6 separate regions of the Homo sapiens genome follow, and regions 1, 2, 3, 4 and 5 are each reported to be linked to region 6. The links are microRNA targets in miRTarBase. Many come from high-throughput screens and were not tested one by one. Region 6 holds a microRNA gene; each other region holds the end of a gene's coding sequence.
The links. The annotated mature microRNA hsa-miR-6754-3p reads UCUUCACCUGCCUCUGCCUGCA and lies in region 6 at 1,899-1,920, opposite strand. An mRNA with a match to its seed (bases 2 to 7 or 8) in the 3' UTR can be bound and repressed. Matches are read on the target gene's strand: a 7mer-m8 pairs with bases 2 to 8, a 7mer-A1 pairs with bases 2 to 7 and ends in A, and an 8mer does both.

Region 1: the mRNA of HRK is a reported target of hsa-miR-6754-3p. The part of its 3' UTR that is shown has no 7-base or 8-base seed match.
Region 2: miRTarBase lists SUSD5 as a target of hsa-miR-6754-3p. Seed matches in the 3' UTR shown: 7mer-A1 at 2,258-2,264.
Region 3: the mRNA of MYO9B is a reported target of hsa-miR-6754-3p. The part of its 3' UTR that is shown has no 7-base or 8-base seed match.
Region 4: miRTarBase lists ZNF260 as a target of hsa-miR-6754-3p. Seed matches in the 3' UTR shown: 7mer-A1 at 1,527-1,533.
Region 5: the mRNA of ENAH is a reported target of hsa-miR-6754-3p. The part of its 3' UTR that is shown has no 7-base or 8-base seed match.

What each region holds. Positions count from the first base shown.
Region 1 is chr12:116,878,274-116,881,964 of GRCh38, reverse strand. HRK (harakiri, BCL2 interacting protein) reads left to right here and starts at 524. Exons shown (of 2, transcript NM_003806.4): 1 at 524-989. The coding sequence starts at 658. The coding sequence ends at 933. RefSeq lists an enhancer at 1-331 and silencers at 837-916, 1,795-1,995.
Region 2 is chr3:33,149,592-33,153,282 of GRCh38, forward strand. SUSD5 (sushi domain containing 5) reads right to left here. Exons shown (of 5, transcript NM_015551.2): 5 at 452-3,691. The coding sequence ends at 3,151. Among named protein-coding and RNA genes, the nearest start is that of CRTAP, 37 kb to the left of the region's middle. RefSeq lists an enhancer at 3,224-3,691.
Region 3 is chr19:17,211,328-17,215,018 of GRCh38, forward strand. MYO9B (myosin IXB) reads left to right here. Exons shown (of 40, transcript NM_004145.4): 39 at 320-447; 40 at 568-1,959. The coding sequence ends at 983. Among named protein-coding and RNA genes, the nearest start is that of USE1, 2.2 kb to the right of the region's middle. RefSeq lists an enhancer at 3,670-3,691.
Region 4 is chr19:36,511,220-36,514,219 of GRCh38, reverse strand. It overlaps ZNF260 (zinc finger protein 260), which reads left to right. Exons shown (of 3, transcript NM_001166037.2): 3 at 1-3,000. The coding sequence ends at 220. Among named protein-coding and RNA genes, the nearest start is that of ZNF260, 16 kb to the left of the region's middle.
Region 5 is chr1:225,494,586-225,498,276 of GRCh38, reverse strand. It overlaps ENAH (ENAH actin regulator), which reads left to right. Exons shown (of 14, transcript NM_018212.6): 14 at 465-3,691. The coding sequence ends at 502. Among named protein-coding and RNA genes, the nearest start is that of LINC02765, 29 kb to the right of the region's middle.
Region 6 is chr11:71,471,775-71,475,465 of GRCh38, reverse strand. It overlaps MIR6754 (microRNA 6754), which reads right to left and starts at 1,963; the gene lies at 1,898-1,963. It overlaps NADSYN1 (NAD synthetase 1), which reads right to left. Exons shown (of 21, transcript NM_018161.5): 6 at 2,966-3,017; 7 at 2,100-2,188; 8 at 1,780-1,897; 9 at 940-1,071. RefSeq lists enhancers at 1,325-2,231, 2,232-3,139.

The DNA of each region.
Region 1 (3,691 bases), not on the chromosome of region 6:
GGTCAGGCTGAAAGCCTACAGGTGCCAAGTCAGACCTGAAACGAGGCAAGTTGGGTGTAATCTGACCCTTCCATAAGATTTTGAATCCACCCACCTCCCCCAAACAAAACAACAGCCTCGGAATATTTTTGAATAATGCAGCCGAATTCAGCATCAGCTTCATCCAAAACGGCAAACAAGCCTTTTTCCCTCGCCAAATCGGAACTCGAGCTGAATTCAGGAAAAGGGGAAGGAGAACAACCTTCCCTCGCGCTCCGCGCCTCCGCGGGGGTCCCCCGAGACCCCCAAAGCCCAGGACCTCCGCTGCGGGGAGCCTTCTCGCGCCGCCCCGCGCCGCGCTCCCCGTCTCCCAAACCTCGCGCTCCCTAGCTGCCGGCGCCGCTAGGGTTAAAAGTTACCTCTCGGTTTCTTCTGCCTGCAGCCCCCCCCCCAACCCCCGGGGGCCGGATGATGTAACCCCCCTCCCCGCCCCCCTCCACCATGTGACACTTTAATTAATAATAGCGCCGTCAGCACAACAAACGCACAACACAAGGAGAAACTTGGTGTCCAGGGGAGGCCCCCGGCGGCTGGAGCGCGGCGGCAGCGGGCGCAGAGGCCGGAGGGAGAGGAGGCGAGGGGCGGCCCGAGCGCGGGGCGGGAGCGAGGCCAGCGGTCATGTGCCCGTGCCCCCTGCACCGCGGCCGCGGCCCCCCGGCCGTGTGCGCCTGCAGCGCGGGTCGCCTGGGGCTGCGCTCGTCCGCCGCGCAGCTCACCGCCGCCCGGCTCAAGGCGCTAGGCGACGAGCTGCACCAGCGCACCATGTGGCGGCGCCGCGCGCGGAGCCGGAGGGCGCCGGCGCCCGGCGCGCTCCCCACCTACTGGCCTTGGCTGTGCGCGGCCGCGCAGGTGGCGGCGCTGGCGGCCTGGCTGCTCGGCAGGCGGAACTTGTAGGAACGCGGGGCTTCTTGGTGGGGCCGGAGCCGAGACCCAGCCGGAGCGAGCAACAGGTACGCGAGCGAGCGAGCGAGAGCCGGGGCGCGGCAGCTGGGCACTGGAGACGCTGGGCTGGCCCGGGAGCGGGAGAGTGGCAAGTTTGGCTTTCTTCTTTTCCCTTCTCCTTCTTCCTCCGTTCTCTTCTCTTGCAAGCATCTCCACCTCTCCTCTTCTACCCAGTCCCCAGTCTTCCCTTCCAAGTGTAAGGTCCACCGTTTCTGCCCCCATCTCTGCGAGTCCTTAAGCGCATCTTGCTACTCACTTATAGCTCAGTGGCTTGCGGAGGACTTCAGCCTCCATAATCCCCACCAGCCCCACAAATAAACACACAATGCAAGTAAAAAGTGTGCTTGCTATGGGAATGTAGTTGTAAGCCACGCCAAATACTTAAAATCTATCGCACTTCCAAGAAAGGTCCCCGGTCCCGTTCCAATCCTCTTGCCGTTCCTGAGTCGCCCCCGTCTCCATCACCTTTGCTCCCAACCTCTTGTCCCTAAGTGTCACTTCTCCAATCTCTGATCCCCATTATCTGGCACCCCAAGCGCATCTCGAGACTTCCTCCCCCTCCAGGTTTCTGGCTGGCCCAATCTTTCTTCCCAAGCTCCGCGCATTTGCAATTTTCCTCTGCCCTGCCAACTTCGCTCCTTCTCGAGTGAGGTGTCCTGTTTAAGGAGTTTGGCTTCCTTCTCCCCAGACGGTTGTAGCTGCTACGGGAAGGAGACGCCCTCGGAGTGGGCTGGAATAGGGGGCTTTCAGGGAAACTCCAATGGGAAGCCTTAAGGAAGGAACATTTATTGAGCTCCTTCGGGGTGCTGGGCACTGTTTAGGGAGGTCATGTGTTGAGAACTTAGGACAGGAAGTGGGTACTGAGCACCTAGTGTGGTTGGTATCAGTGGGAGGAAGGTACTAGGCTCTTGGGGTGGGGGGATCATTGTGCCCTAGCTGTGCGCCTGGCACTGTGCTAGGCGCTTTGAGGAAGCACACAGCGTAAGCATCGTCTTACTACTCTGGATCCTGGAGTAGCGAGGAGCGCTGCAGAGAATGAGGGAGAGAGAATCAGGCTGAGCCCACCATAGATGGGTCTAGGGCCGGAAGGTGAAGCTCGAAGGTGACATAGCCAGCCGCCCTTAGGTCCCCGCCCCCGAGCCCCGCCGCGCGCCGCAGACACCCTGGGAAGTTGGAGCGGCGCCTGAAGGCGAGGCCCGAGCGTCTGCGCCCGCGGGGAAAGGCGGCAGCCGGAGCGTGGGGGGTGGCAGCGCCCAGGGAGCTGCGGGGGTGCGCGGGGTGTGAGCCGGGACCGCAGGCGACAGATGTCGCGTGGGCCCGCGCAGCCCGGGCGCTGGCGAAGAGAAATGCGCGCTTCGGGGCGCTCTCTGCCCGGCTCCCGGGCGCCGGGGGTCCCATCCACTTCTCCCTACCTTCTCTCTCTCCTGTTGGAGAGGCCAGGGGCTCCCGCGACTGAAAGGGGCCAGGCTGAGGCTGCCCAATCCCAGGGACAGGAAGAACATTTTGGATGGATCGCGGGGTGCAGAAAAAGGAAGTTGAGCGACAGACGCGAAGCCCAAAGCGTGGAATTTGGGAAGAGGCAGAAAAAAAGTGGGCGAAGAGGAAGAGAAAAAACAAGCGACGAGATGGGGAGGGACAAGAAGTTTGGGGAGGATAGAGAAAAAGAGAAACTGCCTGGAAAACAAGTTGCAAGACAATTGAAAAGTGAATGAGAAGGAAAGAGAGGAAGGTAGTAAAATCAAATAGAACTGTGGAGAGAGGGCTGGGACACGGCTTTCTCTGGTTCTGTCGTCCAGGAGATTGGAAACGCTCTCCCCTTCCGGCACCAGGCGTGCGGGATGTCGGGTGCCCCTCCCGGGAGGCCGAGGACTCCGGGCCGGAGCCTGACTGTGTGTTCCTGTTTGCCGGTGTGTGAGTGTCGGGGTGGGAATGCTCCCGGGGCCTGGAAGGGGAGGCTGCGGGCGGGGCGGGCAGATTGCGCCGCTCTGCGCCGGAGCGCAGGGGAGGAGTTGGGTAACTGGGGCCTGCGCTGCAGGGGAGGGCGGCGGCCAGGAGTTTCGCTGTTTTGAGTCGGTGTTGGGGGGCAGCAGCAGGTTATTGTCTCTGTGGAGTTTATTTCCCCCGCCCCGCCCTCGCCTTCTACCCCAGAGTTACTTCCGTGCTGCGCCCTGACTCGGAGACACCCTCTTCCCACACCTCTGGGTTCTTCTCCTACCTGCCTTGTCCCGCCCGGGCGTCCCCTGCAGCCACACCCTCCAGGGTTCTGCAGCCTCTGGCGCCCTGACCTCAGGATGCCCCGCTCGGCTTCCCAGCAGCACCGCCCCTCATACCCTCGGGACACCCGTAGAATTGCTCACCACCCGCCTTCCTGCGCTCCCAGGCCGGGTTCTCAGTGCTCGGGCTCCCTGCACTGGCCCTGATCAAGTTCTCTCCCTGCAGCCTACATCTGACCTCAGAATACCAGCCGCTCCGGCCTTTCTTGTGCTTTTGATTTAATTTGGGGAAACTCATTTTTTCCCAGCTCTGGTAAGTTAAGTAAAGGGGAAAGAAAAATCACCGGAGGAAGACAGTCTGTTGCGTTCTATGCTGGATATGGGGTGCTCTCCACCTTCCCTACCCTAAAAGAAAAAGGGGAATGTTCACAGCTGTACCTTAGGTGTTTGAGGGAGGCCTGTGCCAGCCATATAGGGTGGGAACTACCACTTTCAAT
Region 2 (3,691 bases), not on the chromosome of region 6:
TGCAGGAGGTAACATAACTGAGAGTTAGGTTTAGAAAGGGCAGTCTTAGATCTTAGATATAGCAAGTATTAAGACATTATTTTCAAGATTACTAGAGATTTTTTTTTTGAATGGAGCCTTGCTCTGTCCCCCACGCTGGAGTGCAGTGGCATGATCTCAGCTCACTGCAACCTCTGCCTCCCGGGTTCAAGCAATTCTCCTGCCTGATCCTCCTGGGTAGCTGGTACCACAAGCATGCTATCACGCCCGGCTAATTTTTGTATTTTTAGTACAGAAAAGATTTCACCATGTTGGCCAGGCTGGTCTCGAACTCATGACCTCAAGTGATCTGCCTACCTCAGCCTCCCAAAGTGCTGGGATTACCAGTGTGAGCCACTGTGCCCAGCGAGAATTTTTTTCTTTTTTTAAACCTTGGTGCAGTAGCCTAGAAATAAAATACATTCAGCAACTGTTGGGGCAATAATTATTTATTTTAAATATCTCAGAAGCTTTGTGTTAATAGAACCCCCTCCCCCAATTTTCATGAGCATTAAACATTCACCATTCTCAAAACATGCATGACATACAATTTAGATTTACATTGTTTTAATCATTCCCTTTCAACATGAATTTTTAGATTCTATAACATTAATTTAGAGGATACCACACCAATAAGAACTTAAAAACTGATGTGTTGGGTTTATTTCACAGTCCATGTCTACAAATAAAACATTTACCTGTATTAATAATTTGTAATAAATTTATTAATACACTGTATTAATAATTTGTAATAAATTTATTAATACACTGTATTAATATTGCCTATTTGTTGGTATAAATCCAATGTTCTGGGTTATTCCACAATAATAGTTGCTAACACAGTCCCAATGCTGAGACAGAGGTTATTTTATATAGTTAAAAATAGAAAAGTTATCTTGCAGTAGATTAGGATCTAATTTATAAATATATACAGTCTCTGGCTTTTATTCTATTATGTTTTGCTTTGGCTACATGCAGAAAGCATTTTATTCCTATTGTTCTTGACTTCGTCTGATGCACAGGTATTCTAGTTGGTACCTTCAGGCTTTATTTTACCCAACTATGGGGAATAAGATCTTTGATTATGCTGCCTCTCTTTACAGCTACTTCGCCTATTACTTTTCCAAAGCTTGCTGAAAAGAGGTGGCAGGGTAGAAAACATGTTGCGAATGTTTTTTTTCCTTAGGTAAAACACCACCAACAATTTTTCAATCATAAAAAAGATCAGGATTTCCCTCTACCACACAAAAACACTTAGACTGCTATGGTGTCTCAAAATAAATGTGTTGCATTCATCACTTTTTACCACTGATAACTATTTCTAAGAAGGTGATTCATATTAGAAAAATATAACATGTTTCATTTCTGTGCCAACATACAGGAGACTATTGCAGGTGGCATTTAGGCAGCTTCAAATGCCACCTCAGCTGCACACAGCCATGCCTGACTTCCACACAACACACACCACATACTCATCTGTGCCTTTAGGGCTTCAGCTGGCCTCGAAGTTCACATTTGAGATTATTATAAACCAACAGGCTCTCAAACTTGAGTGCATATCAAAATCACCTGGAGGGCTTGTTAAAAACAGAACTGGGCCCTACTCCCAGGGTTCCTGTTTCCTGAGTCCAGGGTGGGACTAGAGAATTTGCATCTCCAACAAATTCCCAGGTGACGCTGATGCTACTGGTCTGAGGACCACACTTTGAGAACCACTGCCATAAACCATCCTCGCTGAGCCACCCTAAGATGATTTAGATGCTACGAAATGGGTTACCCAACAGACAGGATGGATTCTGTTTCCACAGAGCTCCCAGTTTCCACACTAGAGAACAGATCAGCACAGATCATTTCATATTCTTTCACAGATTCTTCTGCTTCTCCATCAAGTATGTGCCCATACTTGATAACCTGGTGTTCGGCCCTCTGAAAACATTTCTTTTTTTTTTCTCCCGTGTCATTCTCTCTTACTGGAGTTCAGAGAAATGGTTAATCCTGAGAGAGGAAACCAAGGACTGAGTTTTGTTAGTCCTGGCAAAAATTCCAAGACATTCCTAGGCACAGACTGGTCAAGGACAACTAGGCCACTGCTTCTGAGAGGAAATGGTACTTACTGGTACAAAGCTAACTTTGTTTTTAAAAAATAATGGCAAATCCTTAACCATGAAATATTGAAAATAAAATAAAATAAATGACAGACTGTCCCACAGAATGGAGGGAACAGAGGGGGATGTGTGTTTCTTCACTCCTCAACTCCCCCAACAAAATGTCAGTCTTAAATTCTAATTTCAAGAAACAATGAAAAAAGAAACCTCAAAGCTTCTAGACTGTGTCCTGGCTCTTGGTTCATCTGCCCTCAGCAACATCACAACATTAAAAGGAAACAACCCATTATTCTTCCATATTCCTCTCCCAATAATTCAATATCCATGTCCTAGATAATACTGCTCTCATACACTTGGTTTATCATGACTATTTATAAAATTTCAGGGCATGAAGCTGGTGATTTTCTTTCTTCAAAAAGGTAATACTGTGATGTGGCTCACACCTGGAATCCTAGCACTTTGGGAGGCTAAGGAGGGCAGATCACTTGAGGTCAGGAGTTCTTGACCAGCCTGGCCAACATGGTGAAACTCCATCTCTACTAAAAATATAAAAAAATTAGCTGGGCATGGTGGTGCATGCCTGTAATCCCACCTACTTGGGAGGCTGAGGCAGGAGAATTGCTTGAACTTGGGAGGCAGAGGTTGCAGTGAGCTCAGATCGGGACACTGCACTCCAGCCTGGGCAACAGCATGAGACTCTGTCTCAAAAAAAAAAAGATAATACTGTGATGAAGGAAGAGGCGATTTTTGACCTCACACTGGAAACAGGGCCCAAGCACAGGTCTGGGATTAGTGTAGTCAATTCCAGGGCAGATGGTGGAGGAGACATTGACATGAGTGATGATGTCACCAAAGCCTCCCTGCCCTCCCAGGTGCTCCAGAGACACTTCTCAGCCTATAAAACAAAGGGCTGAGGAAAAAATGATGAGCCTCAGTCCACCTGCGTCATGCTCTAGTGAATTATCGTGTGATGTGTCACAGTTATTTTCCTCCCAAGTGGCTTTGGGAGAACCCACTCCAAAGGTGCCTAGACCTTCTCCATCTCGATCTGCTGGTGGTAGTGCCGAGCCTGCCGCTGGCCAACATTCAGCTTGTACACAGAGCTCTTGTGCTGGCACTTGCGGTAGCCCCACACCATCCCCACACCTGCCAGGAGCAGCAGTAGGCACAGGACGGTGACAATGGTGGCGATCACAGGGCCTCTGCTGAGGCCAGGACATCCGTCCCCCACACACGACTCCAAGGTGGGATGAAGCTCCTCACTTGCACCTGGCCCGGGGCCTTCCTGTCCAAAGAAGTCTTCAGACAGCAGGTATGGGAAGCTATCCTGGATCTCAGGAACAGTGGTTTCTACTGGAGGCTGGGTGGTTGCCATGATCGTTGAGGGGATGTGGTTAGGTGTCTGCTTGACAGTGTTCACTGTTAATATCTCCAGGGTGGAGCTGGTGAGCTCATAGGACAGGGTGGCCATGGGAGATTCCTCTGTGATGAATCTCCAGGGTAGAGTTGACTGGTACTTCGTCAAGTCACCATCCCCAATGCCCTCAGTCTCGGAAGCATTCACGGGT
Region 3 (3,691 bases), not on the chromosome of region 6:
GTGGTGCGATCACGGTTCACTGCAGCCACAATCCCCTAGGCTCACGGGGTCCTCCCACCTCAGCCTCCCCAGTAGCCGGAACCACAGGTGGTGCACACCACCACGCCTGGCTAATTTTTTTTACTTTTTGCAGAACAGGGTCCGCCTATGTTGCCCAGGCTGGGTTCAAACTCCTGGGCTCAAGCAATCCTCCTGCTTGGGGTGGGGGGAGGTTGGGGACACAGAGTTACATCTAGGAGCAGGACAGCCTGCTCTGTTCCACACTGGCCCAGCACTTCCGGTGGGGTGGCCTTGGACACCACTACCCTTTTTCCTCCAGGGAGGACATCACCTACCGGCTGCCGGAGCTGGACCCAAGGGGCTCGGACGAGGAGAACCTGGACTCGGAGACGTCGGCCAGCACCGAGAGCCTGCTGGAGGAGCGGGCCGGGCGGGGGGCCTCGGAAGGTCAGTATTAAGGTAGCGTCTGCTTTTCTCCTTCCCGTCCATCCCAGCAGGCCCCAGGGCGAGGGTCCTCCGGCTGCCGGCCCTGAAGCTGCAGTAACCCTGCCATCTGTCTCTCAAAAGGGCCCCCTGCGCCTGCTCTCCCTTGCCCCGGCGCGCCCACCCCGAGCCCCCTCCCCACCGTGGCCGCCCCTCCACGACGAAGGCCGTCGTCCTTCGTAACGGTCAGAGTGAAGACCCCCCGGCGGACCCCCATCATGCCCACGGCCAACATCAAGCTCCCACCAGGCCTGCCCTCCCACCTGCCTCGCTGGGCACCGGGTGCCCGGGAGGCGGCTGCCCCAGTGCGGCGCCGGGAGCCACCTGCCCGCCGCCCGGACCAGATACATTCCGTGTACATCACGCCCGGGGCAGACCTGCCAGTGCAGGGCGCCCTGGAGCCCCTAGAAGAGGATGGCCAGCCACCTGGGGCCAAGCGGAGGTACTCGGATCCCCCAACGTACTGCCTGCCCCCCGCCTCGGGCCAGACCAATGGCTGAGAGCCACAGCTGACAAAGTCTGCATGTCCGAGGACGGCCCCTGCACTGGAGCTGGGCGCCAGAGCTGCAGAGCTAGTGTTCGGCCCTCAGAGAAGGATCCAGAATCAAAAGCTCAAGAGTGACGTGAGGTGGGCACCGGCCCCAAGTGCAGAGTCAAGGCAGGGAGAGGCCGGCTGGAGCCAGGCCCCCTCGCACGCAGCCCCCAAATCATGGACGCACCTGTGGGGAGCACCACATCTCCACCTGCGGCCTCACATCTCCCCACTCCCCTTTTTGTACGTTTAACTGTTTCTTTGTACGTGGTTTACGTAACTTTAAACTGTAACAGCCTTAATGGAAGACCAAATGGTTTTTTATATGTGTATGTACAAAGTTTTCTATTAACGCTGCCCGTCTCCCTTATAACCTGGACGTGAGCTGTCAGAGCAGAAGCCACTAGGCCACTGCGCGTCTGAGGCTCAGACCCTGCTGTGGTTGGCTTGGGGTGGCCAATGGGCTGGGACCCTCCATGAGAGTTTTGGACACTTGGGTCACCTGACCCGTGCCTCTCTGACACATGTCTCCGGGGGGCAGCCACCTGGCCAATGTGCATTTTTGCACATGCTGGAACCTTCCATGGGGGTCTGGGCTATTGGCTGGAGCCAGGACATGAGTCAGGGGCACCATGGACCTCACGTGCCAGGGAGACTTGAATGTGGCTGTCACTCTTCCGGACGCCAAGGGCTGCAGGAGGCTGCTTTTGGCACTACCCACCCCGTGTGACAGAATAGGAGCCAGCGACTCAGGACTGCTCACGGGTCAGGAGGGCAACGCCTGAAGTCAGACCTCCCTATAGGTCAACAGGGACAACCTGGGGATCTCTGGAGCAGGGCCCTCCTCTCTCAGGCTTGGCCCACTCCCCCAGACACCTGGACACGTGGCCACAAATCTGGGACAAGGGGCCCCCGCACAGCATGAAATAAAAAGTGCCTGAGAAGTGTGTGCATGGGACGCCTGCTCATATGGGATCGGGCTTGGAAGAACAGGGCCGGTGGGTGGGGGTCTGCCCTGTGGCCTCAGCCAAGAAGGGTGCAGAATATGGGTGGAACACTGTCCTCAAAGTTCTGTCTTGATCCTCCACCAAACAGGGAGCTCCCAGCAGAGCCTCACTTGGCCAGGAGCGCCTGCTGTCCTGGCAGCCCTCTCTGGCCTCCCTGATTCAGTGCCCAGCCTCTGGAGCCTAAATGTCAGCTGCAGCAGCCACCCATCCAGCAGAGGTGGCCAGTTCCTGGTGGGCCCAGCAGGACAGGAACAGATGGGCTCCCAGGCTGCCATCGGATGGGAGTCGTGGGAACTGGCTGGCTGGTATTGGTTGGGGCACCGTGAAGAACCCAAGTTCAGACAGCACATGCCAGAGGTTGAGGGGCTTCTCCAAGGCCACACAGTTGGGAGGGGCATGGCTGGGATTTAGACTCTGCCCTGCCAGCCTCTAGAGGCCCCTTTGATGGGCCCTGGGTTTGGTCTCCATTGTTTGTTGTGGGTTTTTTTCTTGAAACACGGTCTCGCTCTGTCACCCAGGCTGGAGTGCAGTGGCGCGATCTCGGCCCACTGCAGCCTCCACCTCTCGGGTTCAAGCGATTCTCCTGCCTCAGCCTCCCGAGTAGCTGGGATTACAGGCACGCACAACCAAGCCCAGCTAATTTTTGTGTTTTTTGATAGAGACAGGGTTTCACCATGTTGGCCAGGCTGCTCTCCAAACTCCTGACCTCCAGTGATCCATCCACCTCACCCTCCCAAAGTGCTGGGATTACAGGCGTGAGCCACCGCACCTGGCCCTCCATGGTATTTTCTTTTTTTTTTTTTTTTTTTGAGACGGAGTCTTGCTTTGTTGCCCAAGCTGGAGTGCAGTGGCACAATCTCGGCTCACTGCAACATCCACCTCCTGGGTTCAAGCGATTCTCCTGCCTCAGTCTCCCAAGTAGCTGGGATTACAGGCACCCACCATCACGCCCGGCTAATTTTTGTATTTTTAGTAGAGACGGGGTTTCACCATGTTGGCCAGGCTGGTCTCAAACTCCTGACCTCAGGTGATCCATCTGCCTCAGCCTCCCTAAGTGCTGGGATTACAGGTGTGAGCCACCGCACCTACCCGTCTATGATATTTTTCAAGGACATCAGGCCCACTGGTGTAACCAAGGTGCAGATGACCTAAGGTGTGGGAAAACATGAAGGCTGCATGCCAGGCCCTGGTTCCTGTGAAGCCCCCACCCTCATCCTGTCACTCCAGAAGAGAGGCACTGCAAGGCATAGGGGTACTCAGCTTCCAGGTACTGAGGTGGGCTGGGAAGGGGTTCTCCATGGGGGTCTGGGCGTTAGGGGGGACCCAGCCCCACCTTGCTCACTCTCAGGCAGAGCTGTCTCATGTGCCCCTTGAGGCAGGTACTGTCACACTGTCCATTTCCCGGGGGAAGAAGCGGATCCAGAAAAGTTAAACTCTCCCAGGGCCGAGGATGGAATCAGAGCTGGAGCTGTGACCTGGAAACCCATAACCACAATACAGATGAGCCCTGCTGAGGTGGGGGAAGCCTTGGATTCCTGAATCCCAGGCTACAGAAATCGGGAAGGGTGTGTGGACGTGAAATAGCTCCGACTGGGAAGAATCCAGGTAGGAGTGGGGTGCGGGGAGGTACTTTGAGCAGGCAAAACAGAACAAAAGGGCACACTGCACG
Region 4 (3,000 bases), not on the chromosome of region 6:
CTTCTGTCAAAGCTCATCTCTTACTGTGCATATGAGAAGCCATACAGGTGAGAAACCCTATGGTTGTAATGAATGTGGGAAAGCCTTTTCTCAGTTCTCAACCCTTGCTCTGCACATGAGAATCCATACTGGTGAAAAACCTTATCAGTGTAGTGAATGTGGGAAAGCTTTCAGCCAAAAGTCACATCACATTAGACACCAGAGAATTCATACTCATTAAAGTTCTCTATGAATGCCTTGGATTTAGCAAAACGTTCAGCAGATTTTACACTTAATAGTGTATTGGAAAATTCATTTTACATTAAAGTGACATGAATGTGGGAAGTCCTTCAGCAGCAATTCAAAACTTAAATACTATGATGTTTAATAAGTATTATAGTGTAAAGAAAACCCGTACCCCCAAAACTCCCACAACAAGCATTATCAATGCTGTACTTCTAGGAGTATACTCATTAAAGTTAGGATCTAGTCATGGACACTACTTAATGTGTTCCTGGAAGGCCTACAGATGCATTAAGAAATAGATATGAGATGTATGAGGATTTGAAATTAAGAGACAAAATTATCATTTTTGTGATGTTTTGCTACATATATGAATTGTAAAACTAGAATCATCAAAATTATTTGTTGTTGAAGCAGTCATAAAACTGAGACTGAGACAGAATATTGAATTCAGAAATGTGTGCATGAATATATGGGGAATTGGTAATTGATAGAGGCGGTATCCCAGATTGGTGGGGAAATCATGGATTACTTAAAAATTAATTGACTCTTCATATGGAAAAATAATATCTCCCATCATAATATAAAATATTTTTCTTATGAATTCTTAAAGTACTAAAGACTAAAATGCAAAAAGCAATACTTAATAATATAACAGTTTTATAAGAAGATGTTTTTAAAACCTTAGGGCAGGAAAGAACTTCTAAAACATTCCAGAATACCCGGTAGTTCCACTCTTGAGTATGGTAGTCCCCTATTTTCTGCAAGAGATGGACTCTAAGACCCCCAGTGGATACCTAAAACCCAGATAGGACCAAACTCTATGTCTATGTTTTTTTCTTATATATACATACCTATGATAAAATTTAGTTTACAGATTAGACACAGCAAGAGATTTAAAACAATAATAAACATAATATGGAACAATTATAACAATATACTGTAATCATAAAAGTTATGTGAATATGATCTTTCTCTCAGAATACCTTATTGTACTGTTCTCAACTATTTATGAACTGTGGTGACTACAGGTAACTGAAACCATGGAAAGCAAAGCTGTGGATAAGGGGGAACTACTATATATATGCATCTACCCAAGAAACATGAACACAGGGAGTCATGTACTGGTCTATAGCTGTATAGTTCATTGCACCATGAGTTATAGTAGCCAGAAGTTGGGAAACAAATGCTGTCTCTTGTGAAATAGATGAATAAAATGTGATAGTAACATAGTAGAGTACTCTCTAGCAGTTAAGTGACAAATTAAGTCTATATATTAACAGAAATATTTTTAAAAAATTAGAGTGAAGAAAAATGATGAACATATTGTAATGATGCTTCTGTGAATTTGAATAAAATCAACACTAACCAGCCCTAGTACTAAGAATTGGTTATGGATAAATTATGTAAAACTAAAGAATGGATTGAAAGGATATGTATATACTCAGTTCCCAAAAGTGGAGTGGTTACCTCTAGGAAGAAAGGAGGTGGAAGGGAAATGTTACCAAGCATGGTAGTTAAAGGATACTTCAATTTTGTATCTATTTCTTATTAAAAAGAAACATTCTAAGTAAACATAACGAAATATTAATTCTGGGTGGTGGTAATATTTGTGTTCATTCTATCATTCGTGCTATTTATTTCCTTAAACTTCTGAAAGTTAAAAAGTCCAGATAGGAGTGAGGAAGCTGTACATGAAACATAATGGACTTACATTCCTAGTCAGATACTAATATTCTGTAGAAGATATTTCTAAAATCTTATCTTTAAAATATGAAATAATTTTTAATTGGGGTGGCAACTTAAATTCAATTAAAATAACTCATGTGTCACAAGAGTAAATTTTACATAATCTGTACGTAGTTCTAATCTGTATATAGTCTTGGAGGTTATGATTTGCCACAGATTGGTTGGATCACATACATTTAAGGATCATATTATTAAATAATATATGCACAGACATGGAGAGAATTAGTTTTTACTAAAACATTTATCAGAAATTTTAATACTCTGCATAACCAGTATTAGCATTAGAAATTAGCCACTTTTAAAATGAGAAAACTGTGTCACTCTTCAATTTTTTTATAAGCCATTGAGGAAAACATTAACTCCTGGATTTCAGCTTCACTTTTAACCTGCAGACTAAATTTCTTTCTCAATTATGTCAGACACACCCAAGTCAATCCCAACCCCCTTGTTACCTTGGGAAGACCGTGCTGAAAAAGGAGATCTTCCACCTAAACAGTGTTCTCTTATTTGAAGCAAATCTTTTTGAGAATTTGTTTACTTGATTTCTTTCCACAATAAACTGACAGAGAACGCTACTAATGATTTTTTTTTTTTTTTGAGACGGAGTTTTGTTCTTGTTGCCCAGGCTGCAGTGCAATGGCACAATCTTGGCTCACTGCAACCTCTGCCTCACAGGTTCAAGTGGTTCTCCTGCCTCAGCCTCTTGAGTAGCTGGGATTACAGGCATGCGCCACCATGCCCGGCTAATTTTGTATTTTTAGTAGAGACGGAGTTGCACCATGTTGGCCAGGCTGGTCTTGAATTCCTGACCTCAGGTGATCCACCTGCTTCGGCCTCCCAAAGTGCTAGGATTACAGGTGTGAGCCACCACGCCTGGCTAATTTTGTATTTTTAGTAGAGATGGGGTTTCTCCAAAGGCTGGTCTTGAACTCCCGACCTCAGGTGATCCGCCCACCTTGGCCTCCCGAAGTGCTGGGATTACAGGCGTGAGCCACCGTGCCCGGCCTGATGTTTTTGAATGATTATGAA
Region 5 (3,691 bases), not on the chromosome of region 6:
AATAAGGAAATACCCAGCTGATTAGTTGAGGGCAATGACTTCCATAGTCCTGCCCTTTTAGGATTAGGGTTTTGGGGAGGAGGTTTCTCCTTCATATAATGGAAATTATTTTTATAAATAGGGATTAAACAATATCCCTAAGTTTCAGGTGTTGTCTTTTCTTAGATGGAAAACCACATGAACAGATCTTTCTCTAGGTTACCTCTACTCACCTATCCCAGTGTCCTCTTGTTTTTGAGCCCACATAATCAGTGTTTTCATTTTGTATACAAAAGGAGAAAATAAATATATAGAAATTAGTATCATCTTTCTAATATTAAAGATGTGTGCAATGAAAGATGCAAAGTTAATCTTCTTATTACTGTGAGTTTGAGCACAATCCTTAAAGTTTCTTAGGAATGAATCACTCATTTATCTTACTTTATCATTATATTTATTTTCAATACTTGTTCTTTTCCATCCAGCAATCAGGCAGGAACTGAGCAAGTCAAATACTGCATAGAGGAACAGACTAAGGAGAGATAGGACTTTAATCTGGAGGAAAAATATCCTACAAACAACAACTGTTCACAACAGCAAACCCCTACATTTATGAGCTGTAAGAAGAAAATGGAGACAAACAGAAGGAGGGAAAAACCAACCTACTCTGAAAGCCTTCAGACATTATGACTCTGGTGATAAGCTCTTTCCCTCTCCGTTTGCTGCTTTTTTCTGGCCTTTACAACAGAATGGAAGAGAATCATTTAAGAGTTCCTGTAACAGTTATGCAGAAAATACTAAAACCCATCAGGCAAGATCACCACGCATTGAAATATTTTCATATCAAGATAAAGTCGCACATTTTCCACAATACATTGCTAAAATAAAGAGGAGAAAGGCTTAGGAAGTTTTTTTGCAGAGAGTGCTGGTAAAGAATTGAGCAAGTTTGCTATTGTATTGTAATGTTTCTCTCAGGTTTGTTCTTCCTATCATGTTTGATATTCCATGAATAATTGAGATCAGCCCTATGTAAGTTAAGATCATAATATGTGGAACAAATGGAATTGTAAGTGCTTTCAAAGGGTAATATTTATAAGAAAGTGTCCGAAAAATGTTTCTTCAGCTTGAGAAATTTTAGAATGATAGGAAGTTTCTCGAGTTAGCCTTCATGCAATTTTGTAGATTAAAACATAAAATTTGTCCAGAACTTAAAGATTTAGATGCCTTCCTAAATTGTTACAATGCTTTACCAAATCTATGACTTCTACATAACACAAACCAGTGGTCAAATGTAAACACTATATTGTAGATTTACTGTAGGTTTTCAACCTTTTTTAGATTTATGCATGTGGACATTTTTATAATGTAATTACAATCACCACAAGGTTAGCTTTTTTAATTGCAGACAGTAATGCATGTCACACTAATATGTAGTGGCCTTTTCAAGGCCTAGTCCCAGGGAAAACATTTTGTAGAGTATAGGGGAGTGGGAGGAAGGGGAGGAATAATTTTTTATTTAAAGTTGATTTCTGCACTATCTTTTTCTCAGTTACCTGCATGAATAAATAATGAGAAATATTTTGTGACTTTAATTGGTAAATATGTTACAAAACCAAGTACTTAATCTTTTACATCATGTCTTCAGCTATTTGTATTTTAACCAGTAATTTCAATGGTCTGAAACATGATTCTGAGCTTCACATAATATCTTAACTGTGGAACTCAAAAGTTTGATCACTGAATTTGGCAGTTATTATTACCTAGGTACCCCCGCTGTTACACAGGTGTTTAGATACGTGTTCCTGAATGAAGCTGCTTTTGAATTTTGTTATGTTGAAATGCAAGAAATAACAATGATGGCAGCAATTAAGGTCACAGAAATCATTAGGTAAAGGAAAACCAATGAGGAGTTCTGCAGTTTTCTTTTAATAAGTAAAGTGAGACTTGGGTGGTGGGAAGAAGGAAGGTGGGAAGAAGGAATTAGACACTCTGCCTGCCACTCTGCGTGTGTGTGCTCTCGCGCACGTGCTGTCTATATGGAAGCCACTCCCTTTTCTTTCCTTTGAAACTGGTAAGGTTAAAATAGGGGAGAAATCCTACATGTTGGAATGATAGCTTTTTGGAAAATTTAAGAAACTCTCCAGGCTCTCCATCTTGATTTATGCTTGAGTTGTTATGTGCCATATTTGCTTTGAACTCTGATTATCAGAAGTTTTACTAAAACTTTGAAATAATTCACTTTCATCTGCTTTCTAGATTTTGTACATCTCAGTCCATAAAGCAAAGCTTGTTGATAGTGTAGTTTTCTAAACGCTGCAAATTTGCAGCCTTTACCACTACAAAGAAGTTTGGATGAGGGATTTTTTTTTTCTTTGTCAAAATAGTTCCTGTTTCTGTAGAAATTTCATTTTTAGATTAAACTGTGATGGATGAGCTATCATAATTCAAGTATACATTTCTTTTTTCTATCAGATATTCATTGTCATGCAGTAGTAGTAAAAACATCAAAGATGCAGCAAGCTTATTAAGTATTATTTTCTAAAAGAAATAGGAGGCATTTTCATCTTTATTATTGTACTTTTGGTTATGCAAACACTTTGATAATATAAACAGTTATGTCCCCTATAAATCTGGTCAGCAACCTCTTTTGATTTTGTTGGGTAAGTTAAATAGTCTGTAGTAGGTAGAGTACTGGGTACAAGTGGTCCAAACTAAGATAAGAGACTAAAATAAAATGCTAAATCTTAAAAGAAACTGGGTTTATGCACTAAACGTTTTGTGCCTTGGTCTAATATTAACATGATGTATGTGTAAACTGACAAAAAAAAAAAAAAAAAAAAACCAGTGTTGAATCATGCTATATTTCCCATCATCCCAGATTGCTAAATGTTCTTTCCAAGAAGTCTGAATGAATTATTATATACATTTGCTATCATACATGACAGTTGTGTCATTATTAGAGATTTCAGTAATTAAAATGGGAAACAGAAGCCTAAGTTATTTACCTTATCAAAACCACGTTCCTTGGAACCACATTATTATGATGGTTTTTGTGCTCTTGTACGTTGGATGTCTTAAGCTGAGTACAGTTTAGGGGATCCTTTCTAATGACAGGAAGGCACTGCTTTCCTCAACACTGTGATCTGACCTGTGACAAGTCTGTACTATCCACTATGTAAATGGCTCACAAGTCAATTGCAAACAAACTGAATGTACAAATCTTAGTGCTGGTGCTGAAATCTCTTCAGAATAGTCATCATGATTTAAAAGTTTGTTTAAAAATTTGCAAGCATCAAGTGTCAATCAAAACTGAAGATGAAACACTAATGAATGTTGAATTCTCATGCTTTTAGGTGTACTTCCTTTTTAGAATTTTCAGTTTTCTGCTATTTTTACCGTAACTATTTCGTTTAAATTTGTTTCATTTAAGTTTCCTACACGCTAACTTCGTTTGTGCGATTGAAATAAAATTGCAGTATATATATGTTGCTTGTTTGTGACACTTAGATAATCTTCTGAAATAATTTGTTTTAAAGTAAGTTATATTGGATGTGAAAAACACCTTTTAAAGTCCAAGACTTTACTACTTAAAAGTTTACATGTCACGTCACTATTCTTTACAGATTTCATAGAAGTCGTGAATACTAAGTAATGTATACAAAAGAAATATGTGATGATGTGTCTACTTTTTGTTTGAAATAACTGTTGGGTG
Region 6 (3,691 bases):
TAGCTTTGTTCTCTGTCATCTCCTTCCTCGGAGCACCCACATATCTGTGTCGCTTCGGGATAGCAATGGCGCTTCCGACCTGTAACTCACAGCTCCCCCAGGGCCCTCCCTCACGCAGCTGGCCGCTGTGTGCTCAGAGATCCCCACAGAACAAAGCCTCCCTGACCAGAGTGTCCTGGGGTCTCCACTTCTGCTTCCCAGGACTCAGGGGCAGCGTGGCATAAGGCCTCAGATGAGTATATGTGGCCTCAACACCCAAGGAAGACAGACAGGGCCTTGAACGGCCTCACCATACATGGGATCCCTGGACCTGTCTCAGGGGCCATGGAGCCTGCTAATTTCAAAGGAGTGGCTTTGGTTCCCTGCCAGCCCTCGGAATTCAAACAAACCAACGACACCCACCCGCAGGGGCCAGGCGGCACCCATCCTCTCATCACCACAGAGCCCGCCTCCCACAGCGGGGGCCGTCCCCTCTGTTCCTGAGCACACTCCCACCTGGCCCTGCGTGGCACGGAGCCCTCCTCCCGCACTGTGGGAACGCAGGACTCGTAAGCTGCCCTCAACCTCATCCGTCCACTACTATGTGCTGTGTGTCGGGGTTCAGCTGTCTCCAGACCCGAGGGCGGGAGGTCCCCCCTCACCAACCAGGTAAATTTGAGGCCATCAGAGCAGGCGGGACCCCTGGGGGCTTCTCCACAGGGGCCCTCACTAAGCACCCGGCTTACAGGGGAGAGCCAGGAGCAGGCGGGACCCCCGGGGGCTTCTCCACAGGGGCCCTCACTAAGCGCCCGGCTTACAGGGGAGAGCCAGGAGCAGGCGGGACCCCCGGGGGCTTCTCCACAGGGGCCCTCACTAAGCACCCGGCTTACAGGGGAGAGCCAGGAGCTCGGTCTCTGCACAGAGAACCCTCCCCCAGGCATGTCCAGGCCCGCTCATTACCACGTCATCCAGAGAAAACTGGGATCCTTGAGCAAAGACGCTTCCGTTCATGGCAATCATGGCACAGCCGTCGTAGTACAGGCGGTCCCCGTCACAACCCTTCTGGTTGGCCAGCAAGTAAATCCCACCGTTCTGAAAAAGGAGGACCCCATAGCGGAGTGGTCAGCTGTGTCCACCACCCTCACCTGCCACCTGCCCAAGTACAGGAACCTCCGCCGAGTCCCGCTAGGTCATCCTGAGTGGTCCCACCACCGCAGAGATAACGCATATGTGTGGGGAAGCACAGACCTGTGAAGCTGCGGCGAGCCCCGCCTTGCTAGGTGCCAGGCTCTACACAAAACATTTGTTTTTCCTTCACAACAACCCTACAAGGCAGACCCCATCACCTCCCTCAGGCATGATGAGGTTCAGACAAGCCAAAGAAAGCTCTGCATGATGAAGCCAAGACTCAAACGCGGCTCAGCTAGACCCACATCTGCCCCGTGAAGGATGAACCAGCACTGCCCCTCGCACGTCTCACTGCCCAACAGCAGGAGCAGCAAACGTACGGGTGTTCCCTACGCCTCACCATGATGCCAACGAACAAGGAGCACGTTCCGGTTCCTGGTCATGGCAGAGAGGGTGACAGGGTTGCTTCATAGGGTGGCTGCGTGGGTGAGATGGGCTGTGCCGGCGAAGCCCTGGAGGGCAGCAGGGCACACTTGTTGAGTCCAGGCCATAATTACTAGCCTGGAACATCCATTGTGTGTGGGCCCAGCCCTGCGATGGGCACTGAGGATGCAGGAGTTCTTGAGATACAGTGTCTGCCCTGTGGCGCACGCTCCCTGGCCCAGCCCCTACCTTGCTGGTGACCATAGTCACGAGATCCACCCTGGTGTTGGCTTTGCGCAGCACTTGGTGGCTGCCCGAGGCGTTGGTGATGATCTCCACGCCATCCAGGCCCATGTCGATGTGCGGGCTGCAGGCAGAGGCAGGTGAAGAGAACAGGCCACCAGACTCCTCCAAACCAGCCTCCCTGGCAGCCCCTTGCACTCTCCCACGGCAGCTCCCAGCCCACGGCCACGGCCACGGCCACGGCCCCAGGACGTCTGCAGTCCCAGGTCCTCCCAGCTGGCCCATATGAGGTGGGCGATCAGACAGCACAGGGGCATGGGGCTGACCTGTGGGGTGTCCAGAGCTCCTCACAGATCTCACTTCCAATGCAGGTGTCCCATGTCACCAGCACCGCATCTCCGAAGGGTACGGTTTCCTGCAGTCGGAAGAGAAGAGTGCATGAGATTCACTAGCCATGCCCTGTCTGGGCCACGCACTACCTAGGGCCACGGACATCCTGCAGCCACAAGAGCTGGAGTTGGCTCTGGGCTCTCGCACATTCCGAAGAGGTGGGTGCCCTGCGGCTGCGCATGGGACACCGGGTGGTGCCAGGCAGAGACGCCCTTAGGAGCCTATGTGTGGAAGAAGGGGACGCCTGTACTCTGAGCAGCCAAGGGGCAGAATGTCACGGACATCGATGGGGCTGCCAATTGGGGCCAGCAGCTTCTGAAGCGACCCTGTCCTGTGATCACACTGAAGCAGCTGCTGCCCTGTGCTGATGAAGCTAGGCCCCCACTCCCAGCCACAAGGCAGTGGCTGAGAGGGGACACCAGGGTGCCTTCCCTTAGAATTCAAAATTGAGAGTAGGGCATTTTGCTGTTGGTCTAGATAACACTTAAATGTCAGAACATAGCCCCTGGGGATGGAGAAGGCTGTCTTCTGCCACAAGGAGGAAATGAAGAGGAGGAAGCCAGTGTGAGTGGGGGAAGGGAGGAAAAGCAGCCCCAAGGCAAGGAGGAGCCACCCTGGCTGCTGTCTGGCCACGCAGCCCCCCTCACTATAGGAACCTGCCTCCTTTGTCTGTTTCAGACCTGTGAGCACTGTGGTGCCTTCCATTACCTGGATCCCAAAGCGTTCCCGCCCCACCTGGTCCACTGTTGGCCGAGAACAGCGACAACCGACTGAAAAACGGGCTCCACACCCAGGGACTCACCTGCTTTGTCAGGTCCTGTATCATCCGAGGCAGAAAGTACTCCTCTGTGTGCCTGGAGAGGAAAACACCGAGGAGCTGAGGATGAGCATCTCAGGACAAATGAGGAATGGCGGCTACATTTAAACAAAACTCAAACTGAACCCTCCGAACTGATGAACTGGCAAAGGAACTGCCAAGCGTTCCCCCCAATGCAATAAACAATCGCATTCAGGTAAAAAGAAAAGAGTATGAAGGTGGCTTGAGGAGACTATGTGACATGGTGGTGGGCTGGGCTCTCCGAGCTTCGGGCTGCCTCAGTTTCCCCACACGCTCATGTTCATCTTTACTGAGAGATGTGTCACAGGGGATTTGCTGAGAACTGGCCACGTTGCCTCATGGAGAAATCCAGGTGGAATTCCTGATCGCTGTTACTGAATCAGAAAAATCGTGTGGCATTAACCCGAAACACAATGACAAACCAGTATCATCCCTGGAATAAAATGATGCTCTCAATTCGAGAAATCAGGAGGAGGGTTTAATACCAACTTTAGTGCAAGGTGTCCCAAGAAGCTCCACCAAGAGGCGGAATCTTCAAAACAGACAGTTCACGCATTTGACTTCCAATAGGCTGTTACGAGATGCACCACTCAGATCTGCAAGGAACTCCGTTTCCTTTTTGCTTTCTTAGAATTCCCAGGAGCCTTCTGGGCATGGTTTTAGTAGTTCTCTCTACTTAAGAAATGTTAA